Homo sapiens: one gene and its partners. The protein of the gene in region 1 purifies or fractionates together with the protein of each later gene. This does not show direct contact. Each region holds a gene or a part of one and is shown in the gene's direction. Other genes may lie near its edges.

What was found. The genes of interacting proteins can lie anywhere in the genome.
Region 2: the proteins of SDE2 (region 1) and HOXB6 purify together in Homo sapiens (affinity purification with mass spectrometry; one large-scale study listed by BioGRID and IntAct). This does not show direct contact.
Region 3: the proteins of SDE2 (region 1) and DTL purify together in Homo sapiens (affinity purification with western blotting, with the first as the bait; one study listed by BioGRID). This does not show direct contact.

What each region holds. Positions count from the first base shown.
Region 1 is NC_000001.11:225,982,344-225,985,843, reverse strand, and holds the end of SDE2 (splicing regulator SDE2), read left to right. Parts: intron 1-320; coding exon 321-542; 3' UTR 543-3,142; downstream 3,143-3,500. UniProt on the Homo sapiens protein: Inhibits translesion DNA synthesis by preventing monoubiquitination of PCNA, this is necessary to counteract damage due to ultraviolet light-induced replication stress.
Region 2 is NC_000017.11:48,598,619-48,601,986, reverse strand, and holds part of HOXB6 (homeobox protein Hox-B6), read left to right. Parts: intron 1-323; exon of another isoform or gene 324-559; intron 560-1,441; exon of another isoform or gene 1,442-1,540; intron 1,541-3,368. UniProt on the Homo sapiens protein: Sequence-specific transcription factor which is part of a developmental regulatory system that provides cells with specific positional identities on the anterior-posterior axis.
Region 3 is NC_000001.11:212,098,248-212,101,747, forward strand, and holds part of DTL (denticleless protein homolog), read left to right. Parts: intron 1-2,004; coding exon 2,005-2,837; intron 2,838-3,500. UniProt on the Homo sapiens protein: Substrate-specific adapter of a DCX (DDB1-CUL4-X-box) E3 ubiquitin-protein ligase complex required for cell cycle control, DNA damage response and translesion DNA synthesis.

The sequences.
Region 1 (3,500 bases):
GGGGATAGGCTGGCTATATTTTACTGTTTAGATGTTTACTAGAAAAATCGGAAAAGAAAGCAATATTAAAAATCTGTTTGGGAATGCTATACTTCTGTTACTGTTCTGAATGCTTGTTTCTAAATGTATAGATGAAAAATTAGTTATTATGTGTGTTGAGAATACTTATGGAATAACATGTGGATGGATGATGATTAAAATTCAGTTGCAAGGTATGGCAAATTAAATGAAAATTTCTCAAGAAATGTAGTTGACAGTTAAAGAGTCTTTATTCAGAGGAAGGAGCCTGTTTTAAATATTTTCTTATTTTTTTCCCTCAGGTTATTGATAAGGAAACTATAGATTTATTGGCGTTCACCTCTGTTGCAGAACTGGAGTTGCTGGGTTTGGAGAAGCTCAAATGTGAACTGATGGCCCTTGGACTGAAATGTGGGGGCACTCTGCAGGAGCGGGCAGCAAGACTCTTCTCTGTCAGAGGACTGGCAAAGGAGCAAATTGACCCGGCTTTATTTGCCAAGCCTTTGAAAGGGAAGAAAAAATGAGTATCATCAGAGCTGATTCCTATTTGTTTATAGTGTCTACCATTTACAACCTGCATAATGTGGACTCTTGACCAGTATTCCTGTTGATATTAAAAGCTAACTTTTTAGTAACCCAATTCTAACTATCCCCTTTTTCCTTGTCAGGGCTGTAGAATTAATGTCTGAAACCATCTGGGCCTTAAATTTTCTTTGTCTGGTTTTCTATAGTGTATTTAATAAATATAGGGCTATTCACATTTTTTGGTTTGATCTTGGTGTCATTTAGGTAATGAATCTATCCAAGAAATCTATCCTTTTGACCCAGGTTATCAAATTTGTAGACATAAGGTTATTTATAATGGTCCCTTCTTACCCTTTTAATGTCTTTAGGAGCTGTGTTGATAATTTCCTTTTCATTATGATACTGGTAATTTCTGTTCTCACTTTCCTAATCAGGTTGGGTAGGGGTTTATCAGTTTTACTGATCTGACTTTTTATTTTATTTTATTTTTTTTGAGACAGTCTTACACTGTCTCCCAGGCTGGAGTGCAGTGGCGCGATCTCGGCTTACTGCAAGCTCTGCCTTCCGGGTTCATGCCATTCTCCTGCCTCAGCCTCCCCAGTAGCTGGGACTACAGGCTCCCACCACCACGCCCGGCTAATTTTTTATATTTTTAGTGGAGACTGGGTTTCACTGTGTTAGCCAGGATGGTCTCGATCTCTTTACCTCGTGGTCCACCCGCCTCAGCCTCCCAGAGTGCTGGGATTACAGGCGTGAGCCACCGTGCCTGGCCGACGATATAACTTTTAAAGAACCAACCTTTGGTTTTATTTTTCTCAATTGTTTATATAATTAATTTCTGTTATTTTCTTTCTTCTATTTAGCTTGAGTCTCCTTTGATCTTTTTTCTTTAGTTCCTTAAGATAAGCCTTAGGTCATTGATCTTAGACGTTATTTAAAATACATATTTAAAGCTATACATTTTCTTTTAAGCATTACTTTAGTTGCGACTTTACAATTTTATTATGTCGTATTTTTATTATTCAGTTCTAATTTTCTTTTTTTTTTCTTTTTGAGATGGAATTTCGCTTTTGTTGCCCAGGCTAGAGTGCAATGGTACGATCTCAGCTCACTGCAACCTCTGCCTCCTGGGTTCAAGCGATTCTCCTGCCTCAGCCTCCTCAGTAGCTGGGATTACAGGCTCCAGCCACCATACCTGGCTGATTTTTGTATTTTTAGTAGAGATGGGGTTTCACCACATTGGCCAGGCTGGTCTCGAACTCCTGACCTCAGGTGATCCACCCACTTTGGCCTCCCAAAGTGCTGGGATTACAGGTGTGAGCCACCATGCCCAGCCTCTGATTATTTTCTAATTTCCTCCCTCAGTTCTTCTTTGACCCATGGATTATCAGAAGTGGGTTGTCTGATCAGCAAACATTTGTTTTTTTTCCTCTTAATATCTTCTTGTTGCTGATTTCTACTTTAATTCCATTGAGGTCAGAAAATATCCTCTTTATGATTTCAATCCTCTTAGTTTTATTGAGACTCGTTTTATGACCCAATATGTTGTCTGTCATGGTGAGTGTACCATACACAGTTTAAAAGAATGCGTATTTTAGGCCAGGTGTGGTGGCTCATGCCTGTAATCCAGCATGAGATTACATGCTGAGATTACAGCTGTAATCTGTAATTTGAGAGGCTGAGGTGGGAGGATCATTTCGAGACCAGCCTGGGCAATGTATAGTGAGACCATGTCTCTAAGAAAAACAATATGTAATTTGAATTGTTGGGTTAATATGTTTTGTAATATCGATGAGATTAAGTGGTTGATAGTATTGTTCAGATCTTCTATGTCTTTACTGATCCTTTTGTTTATTTCTATCAGGTGCTGAGAAAGGATGTTAAAATCTTCAATTATGATTGTGGAATTGTCTATTTCTTAAATTCTACCAGTTTTTGTATGAAGCTCTAATAACTTATGTCTTCCTAATGTATTGACCATTTTATCATTATGAAATTTCCCTCTGTCTCTGGTAATTTGGGTTTGAAATCTACTTTATCTTATGTGAATATAGCCACTGCAGCCTTCTTAAGCTTAGTGTTTGCACAGTATACCTCTTTCTATTAATTTACTTTGTGCTTCTGTGCCTATTTAAAGTAGTTTCTTTAAACAACATATACTTGAGACTTGCATTTTTATCTGTTCTCTCTGTATCTTTTAATAAGTTTAACATTAAATGTAATTATTAATAGGTTTCTAATTTACATGTTTCCTGTTTAGATAAGATTATTTTATAATTGTATTTTAATTTATTGGCTCTTTAGCTATACTGTTTTAATAATTTTTTTAAGTTGGATGTTCTAGTGATTACAATATACATTCTTAATTTTTCAGTCTACCTAGAGTTGATGTGCCACTTCACATAAAATGTAGAAATCTTGTAAGTATGTACATCCATTTATCATACCTGTCTTTTATGCTGTAGTTGTCATACATATTAAATCTACATATTTAAATATTGTAAGTCCTGTCATAAGTTACAATTTCTGCTTTAAATAATGATATGTATTTTAAAGAAATTAAGAGGAAAAAATAAAATCTTTTGTATTTATTCACATATTTACCATTTCTAATATTCTTCATTTCTTCTTAAAGATCTAATAGCCTTTCCCTTAAGACGGAAGAACTTTCTATAGCATTTTTTGTGTCTCCTGGCAACAAATTAGTTTTCTTTTTCTTTTTCCCTTTTTTTTTTTTTTTTTGAGATGGAGTTTCGCTCTCATTGCCCAGGCTGGAGTGCAATGACACAATCTCGGCTCACTGCATCCACCATCTCCTGGGTTCAAGCAATTCTCCTACCTCAGCCTCCCAAGTAACTGGGATTACAGACATGTGCCACCACACCTGGCTCATTTTGTATTTTTAGTAGAGATGGGGTTTCTCCATGTTGGTCAGGCTGGTCTCAACTCCTGACCTT
Region 2 (3,368 bases), on another chromosome or scaffold:
CCTCCACACCGGCTTAACTCGACCTCCTTCCCAAGAGGGGGTGGCCAGGGCTAGGCTATGCGCCTCTGCTGCAGCGTTTGAATATTGGCCCCTGTCTCACGGGTTACTGATTAGCTTGGGCTTTCAAGCCGTAGGAGGAAGCTCTGGCAGTTCCTTTAAAGGTGCTGTGGTCCCCGTTCCTGGGTGGGGGTGGGGTTCCAGGAAATTGCCTGCGGTGCCAGGCAAACCAAGGTGTTGCCAGAGTCTGGCCGAGGGCTAGAGGAGCTGACGAGGTTAAGGGGCCTGGTGGTGCTGGGGACAAACACTGTGGCTGCAGCCCTCACCCTCTTTCGGCGCCTCTGGAGCAGCTCTTTATAGCTTTCCTGCGGCGAGGTGACTTTCTGGTGGCTATAAGGCCCGACTCAAGGAGCTGCTCTATAGGAGGCCCTGAGGGAGCCAGCCCTAGAAGGTCCTTGGCCCCTCTGAGATTTTGCTTTTGGGCAATCCAAAGGACATGTAGAGAAGTCAAGCTGGTACATGGTATTGAAACACTTCAGGGCCCTCAGGTTGTCCCCTGGACCTGCGGGTAGGAAACCGGGAGAGTGGGTTCAGCACTACTGCTCACTCCCCTAAAGATCAAAGAGGATGCCGCTCCTTTGCATAATGAAAATGAAGTCTTTGTACTTTGATTTGGAGGGGCCGATTTTAGGGCAAAGTGTCTCATCTAAACAGCCTCCCTCAACCTATGGGAGTGATCACTCAGTACCCCTGGGAACATTTATTTATGTTCCCCAAACCCAGAGAAACAGAGTCCAGGACGAGAATTGAGTTGAAATATTTTCATCCCACCCCACCCCAGCCAAAGTTGGGGGTGGTGGGAGAAGGTGCTCATCACCTCAAAGAGCTGAGGGAGAGGGCTTTATAGCTTAGAGGAAATTGGAAGCCTGGACAATGTCTCAGCACCCTCCCACACACACCACACCACACCACACACACACACACACACACACACACACGCAAATATCCCTCCTGAGGTTACCTATCAAGAATTTTACTCCCGAACTGAACACAACTTAGGAAACATTTTCCTGGGAGCTGGAATGTGTTAGCTTGCCCACAGGACTGCAGACTCACAGCATAGAAAATTACAATTATAAATCCTGCCTGTGGGGTATCTGTACAATCCCTCTGTTATGTACTCAAGAATTGGTACACACTTCTATCCATCTCTCTGAACACACACTTCCTCATTGAGGCAGGGAGAGACACCCCAGACTGGCGGATGGCTGAGCCCGCTGTGTATTTACATATTCCCCCAAGGAGACAGACAGAGGGCGGTGGACCGAACCACAGACAGATTCGTAGGGATCTGGCTCCAGAAAGGAGTCGGTCTCTGGCCTGCCCTGCCCGCCTGCTCTTTTTCCCAAACAAACGGATCAGACGAATAAACGCTCATAAATACCTCTGGGCTTAGATAAGAGCGATGAGGCGCTATTTTCTTTCATGCCCGACTCCAGGCGCCCAGGCCCGCCTGTAGTGGCTCCATCTCCAGACAAGCAACCTGCAGAGGTGAGGTTAATTTGGGGGCTGTGACTCTAAAGATAAGGCAATTATTTCCCTGCTTCTGACACAGGGAAATGCTCCCTTCCTCACCAGATCTTATTTTGTTCAGACTTCACTGAGAAAACCACACTATTTAGTGCTAGGATGGAGACATTGTGGGCAGGGAGGAGGCAGGGAAGGCTGAGGCCCAGGGCTCAGCCTCAGCAGTAGGCAGGGAGGTGCATGCAGGTACTCTCTCCCACTTTTCTCCCCCTGTTCAAATGGCCCCTAGTCCTCTCTAGAAGCAAGCCCAGCCATACCTAGATATGGAATATTTATCCTTCTTCATTATCAGGGGGTTTAAATTTGTTTTCTTAAATGCTTATCAAACACTCCCACAGAGTCAGGTTAGGAAGTAATTGGAGGCCATCTAGGGATGGCTATTTTGCCATTAAGGTACAGCCAAGAAGTTGCCCTGAGTTTAGAGAGCCTTGGAGACCACGTTGCAACCAAATAAGTTCCCACCCTTGGTGATCCAAGCTCAGTCCCCTGCCACCTTCCCTAGTGTCTTGTACCATCTTCAGTGGGCAGAACTTGGCCAGAAAAAGGAGCCCAAAGGAAGGACAAGGCAGAGGAGGGTCAGCCTGGCCTGACATCTGACTTTGTTCCATGCCCTGGCCCCTTCTTGTCCCCAGGTGTGAAGGTTGTCACCCTTCACTACTTGGCCTGTGTATGTATATTAGAATGTTGGGAATGCACTGTGGCCCTGTCTCCCAGCCTGGGCTCAATGCTTATTTTCCTTGGATGAAAGAGCCAGAGACATACATTCTCTGACACACCTAAATTTGTAAGGCGGCAAAGCTGATGATACAAACACGGGGTGTGGGAGGGAATTGTAGCGATGCTGAGATACAGACAGAAGGGAGAGGGGATGCTGGCTGATGGCTGGAAGCAGCCTGCTGAGTCCCCAAGAGAACGCAAACGACCTTCTCTCCCTATCAAACTAAAGCAAAAACCAAGTCTTGGGAAAGAATTAATTTTAAAAAGAACTGGCAGCTCCTACAGAGACTTAGAAGAGGAGTGAGGATGCATTTCTTCCCAGTGGTCTCTGACTGCCTCAACTATCAGGAGGGTTCAAAGCCCACAACTGGAAGAAGAATGATTTCTTCCTTGTGCCCAGATTTACTGGGACATCCCTGATTCCTGAAAATCCTATAGCCCAGGCTATTCTTAAGTCTTTTGGGATTGTAGAGGGTACTGGAGTGAGGGTTGCAGGCAGGATAGGGATCAGACAAATAAAGCCACCTAGGCTGAGGGATACCCCTCACTCCTTCACTCCATATCACCAAGTGAGGAGAGGGCTAGTCCCTTTCCCCAGTGCCCCTTCCCCTGCCAAGGGTGAGCAGCTGCATACTAGAACCAGGCAGAATGTTTTGGGCAGCCACCCTCGTCGCCGCCTTCCAAGAAGCTCCTAGTCTAGCCACAGAGTCAGAAGGGGAAGCTTGGGCTCAGTCCCTCCTGCCAGCTCCTCCTCTTCTGGGTCTTCTAGGCAGTGGGATCTGGCCTGCCCCCTCAGACCAGAAGGGTTGTGGAGAAGCAGGAACAATAAGCCGAGGCTTGGAGGAGACAGAGCAGATCTGATAAACAGGAAAAACGATGTTCAAAACCTGGGGAGGAGGGTGTTTCTTCTTTGCTTATCTTAGCGGAGAACTCTTCTCACCTTCTACCGACACAAAACCCTAGAAACAAACCTTCTTTAGTTCTCTCTCAAGGCGATTCGGAGACATTTACCCAACCCTCCCCGGAGAGAAGGGGTCGAAGCAACGCAGGGGTTAACTTTTCTGAAA
Region 3 (3,500 bases), about 14 Mb from region 1:
TCTGGTTGGCCAAGATGTTACAGGCAGTAGAATTAGCTGTTATTTTCTGCTTTCTTGGAGCAGGGTTGTTCTGTTGAATTGCTGTAATGGCTTGAATTGGTTGGCCTCCAGCCAGGAGGTGGCACTTTCAAGAGAGTATCAACTGCAGTAGTATAGCGGGGGATATAAGCTTGCCTTACGGTTTCCTGGATAGGTTTTCGGGCTTCTCAGGCAATGAGCAGGGCCCCACGAGTTTTTGTCTTTTGTTTACGGCTACCAGGGCGGTTAGAGAAAGACCATCTGGTGGGGGCAGGGATAGTGTGTCTGAGCTCAGACTCCTTGGGCAGGGCTTGCTGTGGCCTCTGGGCGATGGGAGTGGTGGTTAACAGGCCAATGGAGTTACGTTCTAAGGGAGATTATGGCTGCCTCTGCTGCTTCATACACATCACCAGGGAAATAGGGGAAAGCCGGCAGTGACAGACCACAGCCAGCAAGGCCAGTCTCACTCCTGCAGTGCTTCCCCAACAGCCAACAGAACCAAATTTATATCCATGCCTCCAGTGCACAGGGTGGAGATCTTGCCCTAGACTACAAAACTCCCCGCCGAGAAAGCAAGCAGGGCTGTTAGGCCTTGTCCATCTGCCTGCCACAGCTTCTGTGCTCATATCTGCACTTCCTATTTGTCCCATCCCCCTGCAGATTCTGCCCAGGAAAATTCACGCTCAGTTGAAATCATTACAAAGTTCAGCTGAAAGTCTCCTTCTCCCTATGGTCCTTCCCCAATTCCATTGGCTGCCCTCTCCAAAGACCCCTGTGAGATAGTCAGAAATGGTTTCCCTGGGGACCAGGAGTGCCTACAGGGCTCTTCCTGCTGCTGCTTCTACTTTTATATTTTGTTTGGCTCTCTAAATTCATTTCAGTTCTCCTTCTCCCATGATCTGGATCCTCAGTGAGGATGTGTGCAGAAGTGGACTTTACCCCTCTCACACTGTTTTTTGTTTGTTTGTTTGTTTGTTTGTTTGTTTTGAAACGGAGTCTCGCTGTCAGGCAGGCTGGAGTGCAGTGCATGCGATCTTGGCTCACTGCAACTTCCACCTCCCAGGTTCAAGCAACTCTTCTGCCTCAGCCTCCTGAGTAGCTGGGACTACAGGTGCACACCACCATGCCTGGCTAATTTTTGTATTTTTAGTAGAGACAGGGTTTCACCATGTTGGCCAGGCTAGTGTTGAACTCCTGACCTCAAGTGATCCACCCACCTCGGCCTCCCATAGTGCTGGGATTACAGGCATGAGCCACCACACCCAGCCACCCTCTCACACTTTGGACCTTGAGAGCTTGTTTGGAGGTTCTAGCAGGGGAGCACATTTACTCGTATACCCTTGACTGAAGACCGATTCTCCTCTTATCAGGAATGGTTGTCCTCTTCGACCAAGCACACAGCTTCGGGAGCCCTCTCACACTTTGGGCACTCAATTTTTCTGCTGTCTTGTGGATTTTGCAGCAGCAAGCCACTTCTTTCAAAGGATCTGTTAATTCTTTTGTTTTTTCTGGTATGTTCCTGTGATAGTTCTTGGAGCCAAAGTTCACTATGTGAGTCTCCACATGCTGTTCTGTCTGTCTGAGTGGCAAATTAGTCCTGCCTCCTATCTGCCACTTTCCCCTTAAATCAGTCTCATTTTTGTAAAGAAAAAAGTTGAGATGTATAGTATGTATCACATGCACAAATATAGAAAGTATGCTAAACATGGTTTACGTAAGTGCTTTAAATTTTTTCTCTTTATGTTTTTCGGTATTTTGTCGATTTTTACAAGTATATATTTTATAATGGGATAGTTGGGAGGTTGGTGACTTGGAAAAGAGAAAGGAAAATGATAAAAGGGTGTGGTTGGAATCAAGTGATGTATACCTACTTACTGGCAAATTGACCCTTAGATGATTAGGTTAGCTATGATTTTTCTTGATGAGAATTTAGGGACTTTGTATGGCTTTCACTTCTGATCTTCATGATCCTCTCCTCTTTTTCAGTAACAGTAACGAGTAGCCAGAGTACTCCTGCCAAAGCCCCCAGGGCAAAGTGCAATCCATCCAATTCTTCCCCGTCATCCGCAGCTTGTGCCCCAAGCTGTGCTGGAGACCTCCCTCTTCCTTCAAATACTCCTACGTTCTCTATTAAAACCTCTCCTGCCAAGGCCCGGTCTCCCATCAACAGAAGAGGCTCTGTCTCCTCCGTCTCTCCCAAGCCACCTTCATCTTTCAAGATGTCGATTAGAAACTGGGTGACCCGAACACCTTCCTCATCACCACCCATCACTCCACCTGCTTCGGAGACCAAGATCATGTCTCCGAGAAAAGCCCTTATTCCTGTGAGCCAGAAGTCATCCCAAGCAGAGGCTTGCTCTGAGTCTAGAAATAGAGTAAAGAGGAGGCTAGACTCAAGCTGTCTGGAGAGTGTGAAACAAAAGTGTGTGAAGAGTTGTAACTGTGTGACTGAGCTTGATGGCCAAGTTGAAAATCTTCATTTGGATCTGTGCTGCCTTGCTGGTAACCAGGAAGACCTTAGTAAGGACTCTCTAGGTCCTACCAAATCAAGCAAAATTGAAGGAGCTGGTACCAGTATCTCAGAGCCTCCGTCTCCTATCAGTCCGTATGCTTCAGAAAGCTGTGGAACGCTACCTCTTCCTTTGAGACCTTGTGGAGAAGGGTCTGAAATGGTAGGCAAAGAGAATAGTTCCCCAGAGAATAAAAACTGGTTGTTGGCCATGGCAGCCAAACGGAAGGCTGAGAATCCATCTCCACGAAGTCCGTCATCCCAGACACCCAATTCCAGGAGACAGAGCGGAAAGAAATTGCCAAGCCCGGTAAGTCAGCAGTGGTGGGAAGATACATTTCCTAACTTAAAAGGGGCCAGACACCCAGATGTCTCAAGTCAGGATGCTTTTTTTTTTTTTTAAAGAAAGAAATCTATTTATTCCTAGTGCTGCCAAATTCAGCACATAAATACAAAACAAATTTTGCATGGGCCATATTTTTAGTAAAAATGTTTTATGCTAAGAAACTATTTTTGTTTGTCTGAAATTCAAATGTAACTGAATGTGCTGTATTTTATCTGGCAACTCTACTTACTCCCATTAAAATCCCTCCTGTCAGGGTCCATACTCCTCAGCCCTGTTGCCTGATTGACCAAAGCCTTCATCATGCTCCAGGATATCAATTCAAAAATATCTCCCCTCTCCTGTTAGACAGTATGCCATCCTCTTTTTATAGATAAAGCTGTTGTTCATGGGAAAGTTGCCAACATCCATAAGTAGATTTCCAGTTTGTAATTCCATTTTGTGATTATTTAAAATACAGTGAAACTTAGATACTTACAAAACAATTTGAGTGCAAAATCTTTCTAGATTTTTATGACTTCTCCACAATCTTTTATAATCATTTTGCCACACCACAGTAATACTTTTGACACCTATATCTATTCTTTTTAACATTCAGTGTAGTGTCACTTATCTTTTTAGGACTCATTT